2 linked regions of the Homo sapiens genome follow. The protein of the gene in region 1 interacts with the protein of each later gene in a biochemical or structural test. Each region holds a gene or a part of one and is shown on either strand. Other genes may lie near its edges.

Region 1 (7,856 bases):
TCTGGGCTGTCAGGTTCTGAACCCGGTCCTGAAGAGGCCCTGGCGCCGGGGGTGGGTGAGGCCGAGCGCGCGCCTTGGGAACCTGGCCGGCCTCAGGCTGGCGGGAGCATTGGCGGACATCGCCCTGGGCGGGGCGGACTGGGGGTAGACGGATCTGCCTCTGCGCCTAGCCCTGCCCTCCGCCGCCGCGCGAACGCGCGCGCCTCCCCGGCTAGTCCCGGCAGGCGGAGCCCCAGTTAGACTGCTCGTCAAGTGTGGGAAAAGCTCCGTGGCGTCACAAGCTACTATATAAAAGGCGGTGCCCGCCGGGGCCGAGTGGGAGTCCGCGGCGAGCGCAGCAGCAGGGCCCGGTCCTGCGCCTCGGGAGTCGGCGTCCAGGCTCGGAGCGCGACACGGAGACTAGGTGGCAGGTGAGGACGTCCCCGCGCACGGCCGGGGTGGAGCACGGGAGTGGCGAGCTTCAGGTCCACCGGCTGCCACCGAAAGATGGGACCTGAAGACAGGAGAGGTCGCTCAGCCAAGAGCCCCGGGGAGGCGGTGGTGTCTCGGCGGGGTCAGCAACGGTCTGTGGGGGGTCCCCTGCAGCGCGCAGCCGGTTTCCGCCTCCGCAGCTCCCAGCCAGCGCGGACGCCGCCCTCCCCGGCGCCTCCTCGCTGCCCTTCCCTGGCCGAAGCCCTCCCCTGCAGCCTCCTCCCCACCTGCCGGCCCTGTGTTCTCACTGCTCCTCTCTGCTCTGGGATCCGCAGGATGACGTCTGTCCTGGTTCTTCTTCTGTCTTTCAAAGTCACTAGTCTCCAGTTCTAAATCCGAGCACTCTTACCCATTCTAATTCTTTCAGTAACTCAGCGAAACGGATGGGGCCCTTCCTTCCCCGGAGCACTCCTCCAGGGACTGAGAATCTGCAGAGCCAGGCTCAGCGCTCGCCTGCAGAGCCTGCGGTCTGTGGGACCCGCCAGCAAGATGAGGAATCACTTTCGGGAGGAAGGGTCGTGCTGGGGAGGGTCGCGCCGGCGGGGTCAAGAGAACCTCCTCTAGGGTGGGAATCAGAGCCTCCGGGCCGCGGTGTTTGAGGGTGAGTGGAATTAATCCCGTGATGGACGTGGGGCCTTCTAAGGGGGACCAGGAGTTTGCGAAGAGGTGACTTTGGGAGGGGTTCAGGATGGCCAGAGGTGGAGGCTGTGACCTCAGTGAGGCTGGATCAAGGGAGGGGCAGGTGGAGAAGAAACCGTTTTAACGAGGTGGCTTTAAGCGGATCCTAAGGGCCCCAGGAGATTTAGGAGGAAGGACAAGAGGATTAAGACACCGCTTTCTGGTCGGGTGCGGTGGCTCACGCCTGTAATCCCAGCACTCTGGGAGGCCGAGGCGGGCGGATCACGAGGTCAGGAGATGGAGACCATCCTGGCTAACACTGTGAAACCCCGTCTCTACTAAAAAAAAGAAAAAAAAGAATACAAAAAAATAGCCGGGCGTGGTGGCGGGCGCCTGTAGTCCCAGCTACTCGGGAGGCTGAGGCAGGAGAATGGCGTGAACCCGGGAGGCGGAGCTTGCAGTGAGCTGAGATCGCGCCACTGCACTCCAGCACTCCAGCCTGGGCGACAGAGCCAGACTCCGTCTCAAAAAAAAAAAAAAAAAAAAAAAAAAAGACACGGCTTTCTGAGGTGCCGTGCGGCTGTGGCGGGGGTGGCTGGGGGTGCGGGTTGTGTTCATTGTCCAAGGCTCTCCAGTGCTTTGCGTGGCGTTTTGGGGAGCACAGATGAGGTGTCCCGACAGTGGGGAGTGGCTCTAGGGAGACCAGAGGCTCGGGAGGGGGCCTGGGCATTAGACCAGGCACAGGATCCAAAGTGGGAAGAAATGTGGGCGTAGAGGGCAGGCCTTGGAGATGGGTGTGGGGGAGGAGGGGGAGATGGAAAGGAGTCAGGGAGGTCTCCCAGGCTCACCTGGAGGAGTCAGGGTCTCATTTCCAAGTGCACTGGGAACTGCAGCCTGGGGGTGGGGGTTCATTTGGTTTCAGGCCTGTGGCCAAGAGACCTACCCCCTCATATTCACACTTTGGCCTCCACGGGCTTCAGAGATAGTACCAGCTCTTTGTTCTCGCTGGTTTTCTTTCCTCACCTTGGGCTGTTTCTTGCCTTTTCCATTCTGGTGTTCTGCAAGGACCAGTTCCTTCATCTCATGCACAGTCTACACTCATGGCTTTTGCTGGGAGTAATGAGTAAAGCTCCCAAATAGATGTTTCTGAGTTAAAACACTGAACACAAAATGAAGCAAAAACAACGCATTTCCAACCTCCCAAGGTCACATGATGTCTAGAGGACAGTGATGGGCAATAACTTTTTGTCTTCCCCATTAGAATGCAAGCTCCACGAATGGAACGTGGAGTTTTTTATTTTTTATTGTTTTTTGAGACGGAGTCTGGCTCTGTCACCCAGGCTGGAGCAATCTTGGCTCACTGCAACCTCCGCCTTCTGGGTTCAAGCAATTCTCCCGCCTCAGCCTCCTGAGTAGCTGGGTCTACAGGCATGCACCACCACGCCCAGCTAATTTTTGTATTTTTAGTAGAGACGAGGTTTCATCATGTTTGCCAGGCTGGTCCGGAACCCCTGAGCTCAGGCAATCCGCCCGACTTGGCCTCCCAAAGTGCTAGGATTACAGGTGTGAGCCACTACACACGGCCAGAACATAGAGATTTTTTGTGTTTAATTCACAACCGAGTCTTCAGTGCCTAGAACAGGTGCTCAGTAAATATTTACTGAAGGAATGAATTCCTTTTTGTATTTCTTGTATCTATCACCAGATGCTCTTGTATCTAGTACCTGCTTGGCATACAGTAGATAGAAAGCTTTGCTGAGTGAATAGCTCTGCCTTTCGTCTTTTTTGATATGTGTACATCTTTTAAAAAATAATGAATAGACTTTGTTTTAGAGCTGTTTTGGTTTACAGCAAAACTAAGCAGAAAGAAAATATCCCCTTCCACAAACATCCTGGACTGTACAGCCTCCCCTACCATCAACATCCTGCATTACTGTGGAATATTTGTCACACCTGATAAACCAACATAGATTCATGGTTACAAAAATGAACCAATATGGATAAAACATATACATTATCAGCCAAAGTCCGGAGTTTGTTAGGTTTTGCTCTTTGTGTATATTCAAGATACATTTGACAAATGTATAGAGATGTACCCAACCCTGTAACGTCAGACTCCACTGCCCTAAAAATCCCTTGTGCCTCACCTATCCATCCCTCCTTCCCTGCAAATCCCTGGCAGCCGCTGATCTTTTTTACTATCTCCGTAGTTTTTCCTTTTCCAGAATGTCACATAGTTGGAATCATGCATTATGTAGTCTTCTCAGATTGGCTTCTTTCACTTAGATTTATACATTTAGGATTGCTCCAGGATTTTTTTTTTTTTTTTTTTTTTTGTGGCTTCAGAGCTCATTTCTTTTTAGCACTTAATATTCCATTGTATAGATGTACCACAGCTTATCTGTCCACCCATTAAGTGATATCTTGGATGCCCTCAAGTTTTGGCAATTATGAATAAAGCTGCTATAGACATTCTTGTACAGGTGTTTGTATGGGCATAAGCTTTCAACTCGTTTGGGTAAATACCAAGGTGTGGAGTTGCTTCATCTTATGGTAAGAAGAGCTTGGTTAAGAAATTGCCAAAATGTCTTCCAGACTCTAACATTAGGCATTCCCACTAGGAATGTATGGGAGTTCCTTGTGCTCCAGATCCTCATCAACATTTGTTGTTGTCAGTGTTCTGAATTTTAGCCATTCTAATAAATGTGTAATAGTATTTGTTTTTTTAAATTGCAATTCTTTAATGACATGATGTTGAGCATCTTTTCATATGCATATACATATGGTGAGGTGTATGTTCAGAGCTTTTGCCCGCCTTTAATCAAGTTGTACATTTTCATATTGTTGCATTTTAAGAGGGTTTTTTTTGGTATATTTTGGGTCACAGTGCTTTATCAGATATGTCTTTTGCAAATATTTTCTCCCAGTCTGTGGCTCGTGTTGTGAACGTGGCTAGTTCTCTTGACATACATATCTTTTCACAGTATGTAATCCTGTTGTGCTTTTTTTTTTTTTCCTTTTGAGACGGAATCTTGCTCTTGTCACCCAGGCTGGAGTGCAGTGGCGCGATCTCGGCTCACTACAATCTCCACCTCCCAGGTTCAAGGGATTCTCCTGCCTCAGCCTCCCGAGTAGCTGGGATTGCTGGTGCCCGCCACCACGCCCAGTTGATTTTTGTATTTTTTAGTAGAGATGGGGTTTCACCATGTTGGCCAGGCTGGTCTCGAACTGCTGACCTCAAGTGATCCGCCCGCCTTGGCTTCCCAAAGTGCTGGGATTACAGGCGTGAACAACCGCGCCCGGCCTGATGTGCATATAATTTTATTATTTGATTTTTAATATACATGAATAGCATGCAGTTCCAACTTTGCTCGAGACTTCACAATTACCATTTTAAAGGGCTGCAAAATAATCACATTTCCTCCTCAACAGCCCCACTTTACAGATGAAGGTAGAGGAATGCTAACTTGCCTATGCTAACCCGCAGAGCTCTGAATCCTCCGGATAGCGCCCCCGCTGTAATCCACCCAGTGCTTCCCTCCAGACCCTTCTCCCTCTCGTGCGCGCGGAGGTTTCGGTTTCCTCTTTTACGTAGGCCGCCCCACTCGCTTGAAAACAAAGTCCGCGATCCTCTAGCCCGCAAGAGAGCTCCGGGACTCAGACCCCGGGCGCGAGGTCCCACGAGCGGCGGGGCGGCGCTCTCGCGGTCCTCCTCCCCGGCAAGGGCCGGGGCAGGGGGAGGAGGCAGCGCGAACAGTCCACGCCCTCCAGCCGGGCGCGCTCGACGCGGACGGCGGGCCAGCTGCCGGAGCGCGGCGACTCCAGGGGACCCACAGCTGGGGCGCCAGAGCGCGGCCATCCGGGCGGGGCCGACGGAGCGCGGCAGGACTTGGCTGGACGGCGCGGCCACGGAGAAGGGCGCGGTGAGCGGACTGGCACCGCGCGGGGAACATTCCGGAGGCCGCCGGGCTCAGTCCCGGTGACCCCCCTGGTCGGGGTTCGCGCGCCCTCCCCCAGCACGCCCGGGCAAGGCTGCCGCGGCGTCGGAGTAATCCCCAACCCTCCGCCGCCGCTTCTTCCCTCACCCGGGCCTCCAGACGTTTGCCGCGGAAACGAAAGTAACGCTCGGGTGCTTGCGTGGAGGCCGGGGCGGCCGCGGGCTTCCCGGAAGGAGAGGGACTCTGCCCGGGGTGCGCGCGGCGGGCGGGCCCCGCCGGTACCGGAAGTCGGGCGGTGGGCGGGGCCGCGGGCGCTCCCGGAAGTCAGGGGTGCTCCGCTAGGTGTCTCTGCTTATCCGGAGTCCGCTGGCCGCCTCTGTGCCAGAGGTCGGGGCGCTGGACTGGTAGCGGGCGGAGACCTGCCTTTGGGCCGCGGTTACCGCGTGAGGGTGGAATAGGCAGTCCCACACGCCATTAATGTTGTTTTGGTGGAGAAGGTGGGCTCCTAGTGCCCTATCATTAAGAAAAAACAGTTTGGGCTCTTCCCTTACCAGCCCTTTGAAAGGGCCTTTTACTGTTGCGCTTGAGGCCGCAGCAGGTTCCAAAAACAAAAGCATTTCTGCGTGATCTTAGACGACTGAGGGGACGAATGTGGTAACCCTAGCAGGCTTCTGTCACTGGCAGGTGCTTTTGTGAAGTGCTGCGGACCCTCTTGAGGGTTGGGAAGAGGATAGGCTGCATCCTCCTTCCCTAAGCATTTGACAAAGCCTCACAGGGATGCGGGGGTTGCGGGGGCAGGGGGAGGTCTGGGGTTGTTAGTTCTTTCTCTCTTGCTGACCATTTGGCTCTCCCTTAATCAGAGCTCTTTTTTATTTTGGGCAAAGCAGGAGGCTGTTCCAATGATTAATTCTTCCCTGACTTACACTTGAAGAAGCCAAGGCAGGAAGTGAACTTTGAAATGTGCAATGTCTTAGTACTCATCTGCATTCTGTGACTGCTAGGAAGATGGACTGAGTCAAGAGGAAATTGTCTTGTTAGAAATGTGGAATACTGCGTCGGGCACGGTGGCTCACTCCTGTAATCCGAGCACTTCGGAGGCCGAGGTGGGAGGATCACCTGAGGTCAGGAGTTCGAGACCAGCCTGGCCAACATGGCAAAACCCTGTCTCTACTAAAAATACAAAAATTAGCCAGGTGTGGTGGCGGGTCCCTGTAATCCCAGCTACGCGGGAGGCTGAGGCAGGAGAATGGCTTGAACCCAGGAGGCGGTAGTTGCAGTGAGCCGAGATTGCCACTTACACTCTATCCTGGGCGACAGAGGGAGACTCTGTATCAAAAAAAAAAATAAATAAAGAAATGGGGAATACTGCAGCTCTTCTATTCACAAAAAGTGAAGACTAGGCTTGTTTAAAATGAAATTTGGAGTGTATCATTATTACTGATAAAATAGCAAAAATGATAACTTTTAATACTCATTTTCCTCTGTCTGAACTATACTGAGCCTCAGAGATATGTTGTACTTTCTGGAATGTGAATATTAATGAGTATTAAGAAAAGCTCTTAAACAGCCTCTTTCAAACTGGGCAGCTTACTTTTTGGTGCTTATTAATCTATAACGTGTTAACATCCATATGATCTGGGAATTTGAAGAAAATACTTAATTTCCCATGCTTTAGTTGGATATTACATTCTGGCAAAAAAGGTTGACTGTATTAATCTGTAGAACATTGATTTTGAACCATATATTTCAAAAATACATGAGCCGTGTATTTTTATTTTTGAGACAGAGTCTTGCTCTGTCACCCAGGCTGGAGTGCAGTGGCGCGATCGCGGCTTAATGTAACCTTCGCCTCCCGGGTTCAAGCAGTTCTCCTGCCTCAGCCTCCCAAGAAGCTGGGATTGTAGGCATGCACTACCATGCCTGGCTAATTTTTGTATTTTTAGTAGAGACAGGGCTTCACCACGTTGGCCAATCTGGTCTCAAACTCTTGGCAATCTGCCCTCCTTGGCCTCCCAAAGTGCTGGGATTACAGGCATGAGCCCCTGCACCTCACCTTCCTGTATTTAAAAAGTTTATTCTGTACTTTCTCCGTGTTTCTGACTGTCGCACATTTATTTAATATAGATGAGTAAGGCTGTAAGGGTGGGTCTTTGCATCTGGATTTTTCCGAAGACAGATTATTTGCTATCTAGAGAAGTAGCATGTATTAGTGAGCCAATAGTGAAAGTTTGAATGAAGGGACAAATATTTCATTCCAGGATCCTACCACTTTAGGTGAATCACTTAGCTCCAAATCTTAGTTTCTTTATTTGCAAATTGAAATCATGATAAAATTTGCTTCAGGGGTTATGATGCTTGTTTAAACTCTGTTTCAATTCTTGTCTCTTGCTGGTCCTTAAGTCTCTTCCTTGCTCAGAGCTTTTGTTTATCCAGGCAAAGCATCAGGCTGCTGTAATCAAGGAAGTTGGAGAAATCCTCTGGTCACTTGGATAGCTGAGCAAAATCAGAATTCTGTTAGTGGGAAGAAAGGGGGCAATGGCAGGTGGGCAACCAGCATTTTCTGCCATTCTCTTGTTATGTGTGGTCATCATAGAAAAATGGGGAAAAAGTTAATTAGAATATTTTGATATGTATACTTACCCTGCCTTAGAAGGTAATCGTGAAATTCCTTGAGATTTCACATTAATTTCAATAGAAACAAATTCACTGTCCTGAGTCCCTGAATTAATATTTATGCAAAACATTTACAAATTCCTTCAAATGGACGTAATTATTAGTTAAAATTATTTGCTATAACAGGCCAGCATGTCTTTGTCACTCTGTGTCATG
Region 2 (7,930 bases), on another chromosome or scaffold:
TTGATCTGGTTGATAGTTAACTGAGTACATTCATTTGTCAAAATCATAAAGCTATACGCTTTTAATATCTGTGTACTTTACATGATATAAATTATATTTTATTAGAGTACTATCAGTATAAAATAAAGTAAGCCACCATTTATGAGGGGTAAACTTCATTATCTTGACTAAAGCTTTACATTAGAGGAGGTTTCTTTGTAAATTTGATCTTCGTTAGCACTTATTCAAGGCTGGTGTAATTGTATTTTATTTGCAAGATGTTAGAAAGTTATCAACAGACCAGGAAATTGTCAACATTTACAAGGACTCTCAGATTTGCTTTGGAATTAGAACAGTATGTTCCCTGTAAGATTTCACTTTCACTTTCAGTTCTAGATTCCTGGGTTTCTTTATACATAAAAATCTAAAAACTTACAGTGAAAAAGCATTAGGCTACAACTAAAGTTGTTACAACATTATGCGAAATTCCCTCCAGAGAAAAAATATTTTTAATAATAATTCCCCCAAGGGAAAAATACTTTTAAATTGATTATTTGATAATAGGATATTGAGAGCATACCGCTCTCAGGAATTGTCAGAGTTCTGAGCCAGGAATGGGATGAAAAACTCTGTCATTCATACCTTGCTCATACACTGACAGTAGAAAAAAACTGGAAAACCAAGAGGCCAAGTGTGGTGGCTCATGTCTATAATCCCAGCACTTTGGGAGGTCAAGGCAGATAGATGACTTGAGCCCAAGAGGCCAGCCAGGGCAACATCGCAAGGCTCTGTCTCTATAAAAAATACAAAAATTAGCCAAGCATGGTAGCCCGTGACTGTAGTCAGAACTACTCAGGAGGCTGAGATGGGAGGATTGATTGAGCCCAGTAGGTTGAGGTTATAGTGAGCTGAGATTGTGCCACCGCATTTCAGCCTGGGTGACATTTCAGCCTGAGAACAAGGCTCTGTCTCAAAAAAATAAAAATGAGAAAACAACAACAAAAAAACCACAAACAAACCTAGAAAACTGAAGATAGTAATGGCTATACAGTTTGTGTCTAGCTTTCACTTTCCTCAAAGGTTTCCTTGTGTATTTCTGTCGTGAAAAGAGTATTTGGAGCTTGGAATTCACTGGCTTGGAAGAAAATAAGAGTATTTGGAGAGAAAATATATTTAGGCTGTGCTTGCTTTGGCAGCACATATACTAAAATTGGAACCCTACCAAGAAGATTAGCATGCCCCCTGCACAAGGATAACAGCTGGATGTTGAAAGGAAAAGAGGAGTTTTTTTAATAAAGTATGTGAGATATACAAAGAGTTAGAAAGAAAATGCAAGGTAGGTTACACCATTAAAGATGTGGATGCAGGTTTAGAATAGAGAAAGCCCAAGTGGATAGTTTGGATAGATTGGCTCTATTTTTGTTAGTCAGTAAACAAAGGTTTACTGAGCACCTTTGAGCAGACACTCTACTAGTACTAGAATAATGCAGTGAACAAATATATACAGTGCTTGCCCATACACATTTATCTAGGGAAACCATTTTTTTTTTAATTGTGCAAAATGTTGCAAAGCAGACATGTTAATTTGCTTCCAACCTACTAGGCCTGACCCTAGCTCTCATGACCAGTTTGAAAAACGCGAGACTCAGTCAATTCAGGGATTTCTTAAGCCATGGTCTTTATTTATTTTTATTTATTTACTTTTTTGGCAATGGATTCTTGCTCTCTCTCCCAGGCTGGAGTGCAGTAGCGAGATCTCAGCTCACTGTAACCTCTGCCTCCCCGGGTTCAAGCAATTCTCCTGCCTCAGCCTCCCAAGTAGCTGGGATTACAGGCACCTGCCACCATGACCCGCTTATCTTTGTATTTTTAGTAGAAATGGGGTTTTGCCATGTTGACCAGGCTGGTCTCGAACTCCTGACCTCCGGTGATCCACACACCTCAGCCTCCCAAAGTGCTGGGATTACAGGTGTGAGCCAATGTGCCTGGCCAGCCATAGTTTTTAAACTGGGGTAAGTGTGCCCCTGGGTGTTTACAAAGACTTACCAACAGGGAGGTGGGAGCTCAAATAGTTTTAAGGAATTAATAGTCTCACTCTCAACTTCCATATGTAGCTTCTCCCAAAACTGATCTGCTTGAAAACAAGAACTGTGAAGGTTGCCAGGGTTGTTCTGTCTTCTCATCTCCCTTTTCACAATGGTTCTCTGTCTTCCCTTAAAAGACAGGCTCACCTCTCACCTATCATGAGTTTTAAAATCGTATATTTCTCTGGGTGTAGAAACCTCCTGGATGATTTGAAATAATCGATCTGTATTAGTGTTGAGAAAATGAATGACTCTAATATCTGGATATAGGGTTGCCAGGTAAAATACAGAACACCAAACTGAATCTAAATTTCAGATAACTAATGAATAACTTATTAGTATAGCTAGGTGCCAAATATTGCACAATACATTCTTATACTGGAAATGCATTCATTGTTTATATTAAACCAAAATTTAACTAGGTGTTCTCTGTTTTAATTTGCTAACTCTGTCAACTGTATCTGGATACCAAAAGTTCAGTGGTTTCTAAACCACCAATTTCAACAAAATTGAGTTGTCTACTGATAAGTAATTACATATTTTGATTAGAGATCACTAAATGATTTTTGGAATATAAAACATATTTTTTAAATTGTGAAAAAATTGCCATAATAATGTTTCTTCTGGGCCTATCTACTTATCTACTTACTTCTGTGAAATAAGGTTTACAACATTTATGTCTGTAGAAATGAAAAAAGGAACAGAATCTGTGCTGAACCCTAACATATTATAGCTATAGGTAATATTCATGACTGCACACTTGAAAAACTTGCTTAAAATACAAGCTGCCACCCCCTTAAATTGTATTTGTAATGCAGTTATTAACATTTACGATATTTTTATATTGTATTGACCAATTATGCTTTAAAAGTAATGAAAACAATATCAATGATAATGTAATCAAAGAGGATTTTTTTTTTTTTTTTTTGAGATGCAGTCTCACTCTGTTCCAGGGCTGGAGTGCAGTGGCACTGTCTTGACTCATTGCAACCTCTGCCTCCCAGGTTCAAGTGATTCTTGTGCCTCAGCCTCCCAAGTAGCTGGGACTACAGGCGTGCACCACCACACTTGGCTCATTTTTGTATTTTTGGGAGAGACCGGTTTCACCATGTTGGCCAGACTGGTCTTGAACTCCTGACCTCAGATGATCCACCCACCTTCGCCTCCCAAAGTGCTGGTATTATAGGCGTGAGCCACCATGCCTGGTCAAAGAGGAATTTTTTTTTTTTTTAACACTTAGATCCTTATGATCCCAGAGAAAAAAATAGATTTCAAGTTCTAATATGTATTTGTTTCAGAGATATGTGACAGAGAGATGATAAAAGATGTTCAGTACAAACATGTATTAACATTCTGTAGGGGAATTGGAATGTTCAATGACAAAAGGCAATGATAAAATATTTTCAGTTATTAAAGATGACCTGATAATTGCTTCATGGATGATCATGTATGTCAAATTACTATGGTATTAGGATCCATCAAATACATTTAAAAGAGTGCTCTATCAATTTTTTCTGAAAATATCTATGTTTACATTTTGTAGATTCTTGACATGTACAAGAGCTTTATGTTTTAATGTTAAGTTAAAAATGGGCAAGGGAATGCAGAGCTTTTCAAAATTCTTCTGGTGAGTACATAATCAAAAATGTGTAAGGCCTGCAAATTATTTTCAATAATCTCAGGAGTGAGTTGAAAATGGCTTAGAAAGTCTTGATTGAAGCAGACTCAAATGTGGATTAAAATCTCCATATGATAAATACACTTAGTCTTTCTGAAATAATTCCAACTGGAACTTCAGCTGCTATGGACAGCCAAGTCCACCTAAACAAGAGGATGCCTCAGCTCAGTCCAATTGCGTGCAGAATGCACTGGATGCTGTTTCCACAGAACGATGAAGTCTCCAATAATCTTTATGGGCTCTGTCTCTGGTTGGTAATTGTCTTTGATCTACTGGAAGATAGAAAATCAGATGAGCTCTCCAAATCCATCTGTTACCCTGGTACGGATGGCTCTCAGATAAAGTTGCTTAAATTTACTGCTTAGAGAACGTTGAGGGAAATATGGCAGTGCAATTAGACTCAAAGATGTCAGGTTTCCCTGAGAATGGCACTGCAACTCAGAAACCTGCCCTGTGAGATCAAAGGCTATAAAGGAGGGATTTTTTTAAGTAGCCAACTCCACCCTACTTATTAAAAAAAAAAAAAAAACAACTCACCAAACCAAACAAAAGTATTTCCATACAGAAAATTTACCAAGCCATTTCAATCTTTAAAATGGTAAAATAAACTGCAAAGGAGAACTGCATGATTTTTTTCACATACCCCTACATTTCCTTTCACCTCTTACTTTCTTGATCAGAACAAAAAGTAAAAATAAATAGAAATATTTCACAAAGTTTCGATTTTTTTTTTTTTAAATGCTGGACTTCTGCAGCTATAGTAGAAGATTGAAAAACCTAACCTTTTTACGTGTAAAGTGTATGGCGGATGGAGGGTGGAGAACAGGGCATATTGACCTTTTCCAGGCAGGCTAAGCAATGATCGTCCTCTCTATATGGGTTGTTATCAAGATTTCCTCTGACCCACGAGCAATGAAGCAAATGTCTTTCAGTAAATGCCGCGAAGATATGCCACGGTTAAGAGTCATGCTTTTGGGTCATGGAAATCCCCGAGTGGGTTTGCCAGGCCACTGATTAAGAGGAAGTGTGTGTGGTTATTACCGCTGGAGTTCCCCTAAGTCCTAAAAGGAAAGCACCAGTGCACATGCAAACCACTGGGAGGAGTGCGGAACGCCTGGTACAGATAGGGGTGGGGATTTGGGTGACGCATTTAAAAGACAGCGTGAGACTCGCGCCCTCCGGCACGGAAAAGGCCAGGCGACAGGTGTCGCTTGAAAAGACTGGGCTTGTCCTTGCTGGTGCATGCGTCGTCGGCCTCTGGGCAGCAGGTGGGCAAGGAAGGCTGGTGTGTGTGTGTGTGTGTGTGCGTGTGTGTGTGTGTATGTGTGCGCGCGCGCGCGCCTCCCCTGGTGTAAGAGATGTGCCAGCGGCTGGCCGAGGGGCGCTTAGGGCTAGAGCCCGGGGCGCTGCAGAGGTTGAGAGTCAGTGGGTGGGGCGCAGTTATCAAACACCAGGGCCCAAAAGCAGGCTCTAGATAGGTTCCAGGTGCTCAATTTCTATTTCACGTTTGGAGTGAGCCAGTGGAATTGTGAAGTTGTGGCATTTTGATTCGGTTGCCAAGAGTTATCACTGGGCCTTTGCAGGTGCCAAATAAATTTCAGGACAGAGCCTAAGGCAGAGCTCTGGCACAGGAAGGAAGTAAAACGTTTAATGAGCAAATGGACGCATGTTTCCAAGCGGTGGTAGGAAGACAGCAGTTTTTGGTTGTCTTCCTGGTGATCAGCATGGAAACCTAGTAGTGCTCTTACTCTGATCAATACATTGTCGAAGGCATGTACCTGATGCTAACGTAACAATAATATTAAATATTGACTTTATTTGCTATTATTTATTGCTAACATTAAGTACTGCTACCTGCTATGTGCTAGGTTTGTCTCTGAAGACTTTACATGTATTTTTCACGTTTAATTATCATAATCTTAAGAAGCAGGTACCATAATTATCTCCATTTGACAATGAGGAAACTGAGGCTCTTGGAGATTTACTTGTGCAAGGTCATGCTTCTGGTTACCGGACTGCTTGGTATTGGGCACCCCCGATGTCTGACTCCAAAGCCTGATACTAATCAATCACTGAGCTGACTCTGTGGTCATTAATATAAAATTGATAGAAGTACTGTGGTCACTCAGGTCTCAGTCATTTACTTCTTCAACGGGAAGTCTTCGTGTCTACCCCATATACCAAGCTCTGCAGATGCTATGAGTGGGAGGGCAGGTACAGAGATGAAACATATTAATAGTTGCCATTCTAAAAGAGCTTACTGTCTAGCGGGAGGCAGAAAGAAAAGGCACACTTGCCCTCCAGTGTCAGAAAAATGGATGTGCTGCATGCCCAAAGGGTAGGGATGCCCAACAGCCCTGGGACTGGGGAGGTTGCCTTCTTGGTAGGTTAAATGAATGAGTCAGAAGAGGAGAGGCTGGGGACTGAGCCAATCTGAGAAGGAACCACTAGAAATGAAAGAAGAATCCCAAGAGCTTGGTATCAGAGAAGCCCAGGGAATGGGACATTTCTAAGAGGAAGTGTGTCCCAGTGTCAGATGCAAACATTTCCATTGGTTTTAGCAAAAAAGCCATTGGTGTTATTAACACCGAAAGCAGTTTTAAGTGATGCTGACTTAATGAGTAAATGGGAGAGGGAAAATGGAGACATTAACCATACACACATGTCCAGTTTGCTTGGCTGTGAAGAGAAGGGGTGATACAGGGTAGTTGCTAGAGTGGAAAGTGTGGTTGAAAGAGGATTTTTTTTTTTTTTTTTTGAGACAGAGTCTCACTCTGTCACCCAGGCTGGAGTGCAGTGGTGCAGTCTCGGCTTACTGCAACCTCCACCTCCCGGGTTCAAGCGATTCTCCTGCCTCAGCCTCCTGAGCAGCTGGGACTACAGGTGCATGCCACCACACCCGGCTAATTTTTTGTATTTTTTTTAGTAGAGACGGGGTTTCACCGTGTTAGCCAGGATGGTCTCAGTCTCCTGACCTCGTGATCCACTCGCCTCAGCCTCCTGAAGTGCTGGGATTACAGGCATGAGCCACCACACCCGGCCGAAAGAGAATTTTAAAAATTTCTTTCATTTGAAAGTTGAGATAGATTTAAGCATGGTTATGTGAAAGGAAAAAGGCCAGTCGAGAGTGACAGGAATGAGAGTTGAAGCAATGAGGGGATGGGATTAAGAACAAGATTTCTGAGGCAGTAGGACAGTGTAGGATCCCATAAGGGGGCAAGTCTTTAACTGAGACAGCAAGTAGGTTGTGAGCCAAAACGGCTTGGATATGAGAACGTGAGAAGGTTCCTGCTCAATGATGTCTCTTTTCTTTGAGAAACAGAAGGCAAAGTAATTGACTGAAAATGAGATGGAGTGCAGTGGAGAAATTTGAGGAAGGTGTTGAAGGTTTAGAAGAGGTGCATAGGGCATGGGCTAGGGAGCTGAGCCTATTGCTAAGGGATGGCAGAGGAGTCTTAAGTGATGCTGGTCCCAGTCTGCAGGGTTGCATCTAGGTGTTGGAAATGATTAGGACAGAGGTTGAAGTGATCTAGGGTTGACATCTTGGCATATTTGTGTATATTTATTGTATAGTTGTTGCCTAAATTTCCACAAATATATGCCTTGCTGGAGTGCAGTGGTGTGATCTTGGCTTACTGCAACCTTCACCTCCCGGGTTCAAGTGATTCTCCTGCTTCAGTCTCCTGAGTAGCTGGAAATACAGGTGCGTGCCACCACGCCCGATGGTTTTTTTTTTTGGATTTTTAGTAGAGACAGGGTTTCACCATGTTGGCCAGCCTGGTCTCGAACTCCTGATCTCAAGTTATCTGCTTTCCTTGGCCTCCCAAAGTGCTGGGATTACAGGCGTGAGCCACCACGCCTGACCTAAAGCTTCTTTAGGATAAGATTTGTGTAAGGGGTTTGCAAACTCAAATGGAGGTGATATAAATGAGAAAAACTCTCAGTGTCTCTCTTTCTCTCTCTCTCTCTTTTTTTGAGACAGGGTCTTGCTCTGTCACCCAGTTTGGAGTGCAGTTATGCAGTCTCACACTGCAAGCTCTGCCTCATGGGCTCAAGTGAACCTCCTGCCTCAGCCTCTCAAGTAGCTGGGACCACAGGCAGGTGCCACCATGTCTGGCTAATTTTTGAGTTTCTTTGTAGAGATGGTGTTTTGCCAAGTCACCCAGTTTGAGGCTGGTCTCAAACACCT

Evidence for each region.
Region 2: of the proteins of RIPK1 (region 1) and BIRC3, one has a biochemical effect on the other in vitro, tested with the Homo sapiens proteins (5 studies listed by BioGRID, with this or other methods).

The regions. Positions count from the first base shown.
Region 1 is NC_000006.12:3,063,650-3,071,505, forward strand, and holds the start of RIPK1 (receptor-interacting serine/threonine-protein kinase 1), read left to right. Parts: upstream 1-4,844; 5' UTR 4,845-5,012; exon of another isoform or gene 5,013-5,207; intron 5,208-5,407; exon of another isoform or gene 5,408-6,067; coding exon of another isoform or gene 6,068-6,130; intron 6,131-7,856. UniProt on the Homo sapiens protein: Serine-threonine kinase which is a key regulator of TNF-mediated apoptosis, necroptosis and inflammatory pathways.
Region 2 is NC_000011.10:102,312,563-102,320,492, forward strand, and holds the start of BIRC3 (baculoviral IAP repeat-containing protein 3), read left to right. Parts: upstream 1-4,921; 5' UTR 4,922-5,009; intron 5,010-7,930. UniProt on the Homo sapiens protein: Multi-functional protein which regulates not only caspases and apoptosis, but also modulates inflammatory signaling and immunity, mitogenic kinase signaling and cell proliferation, as well as cell invasion and metastasis.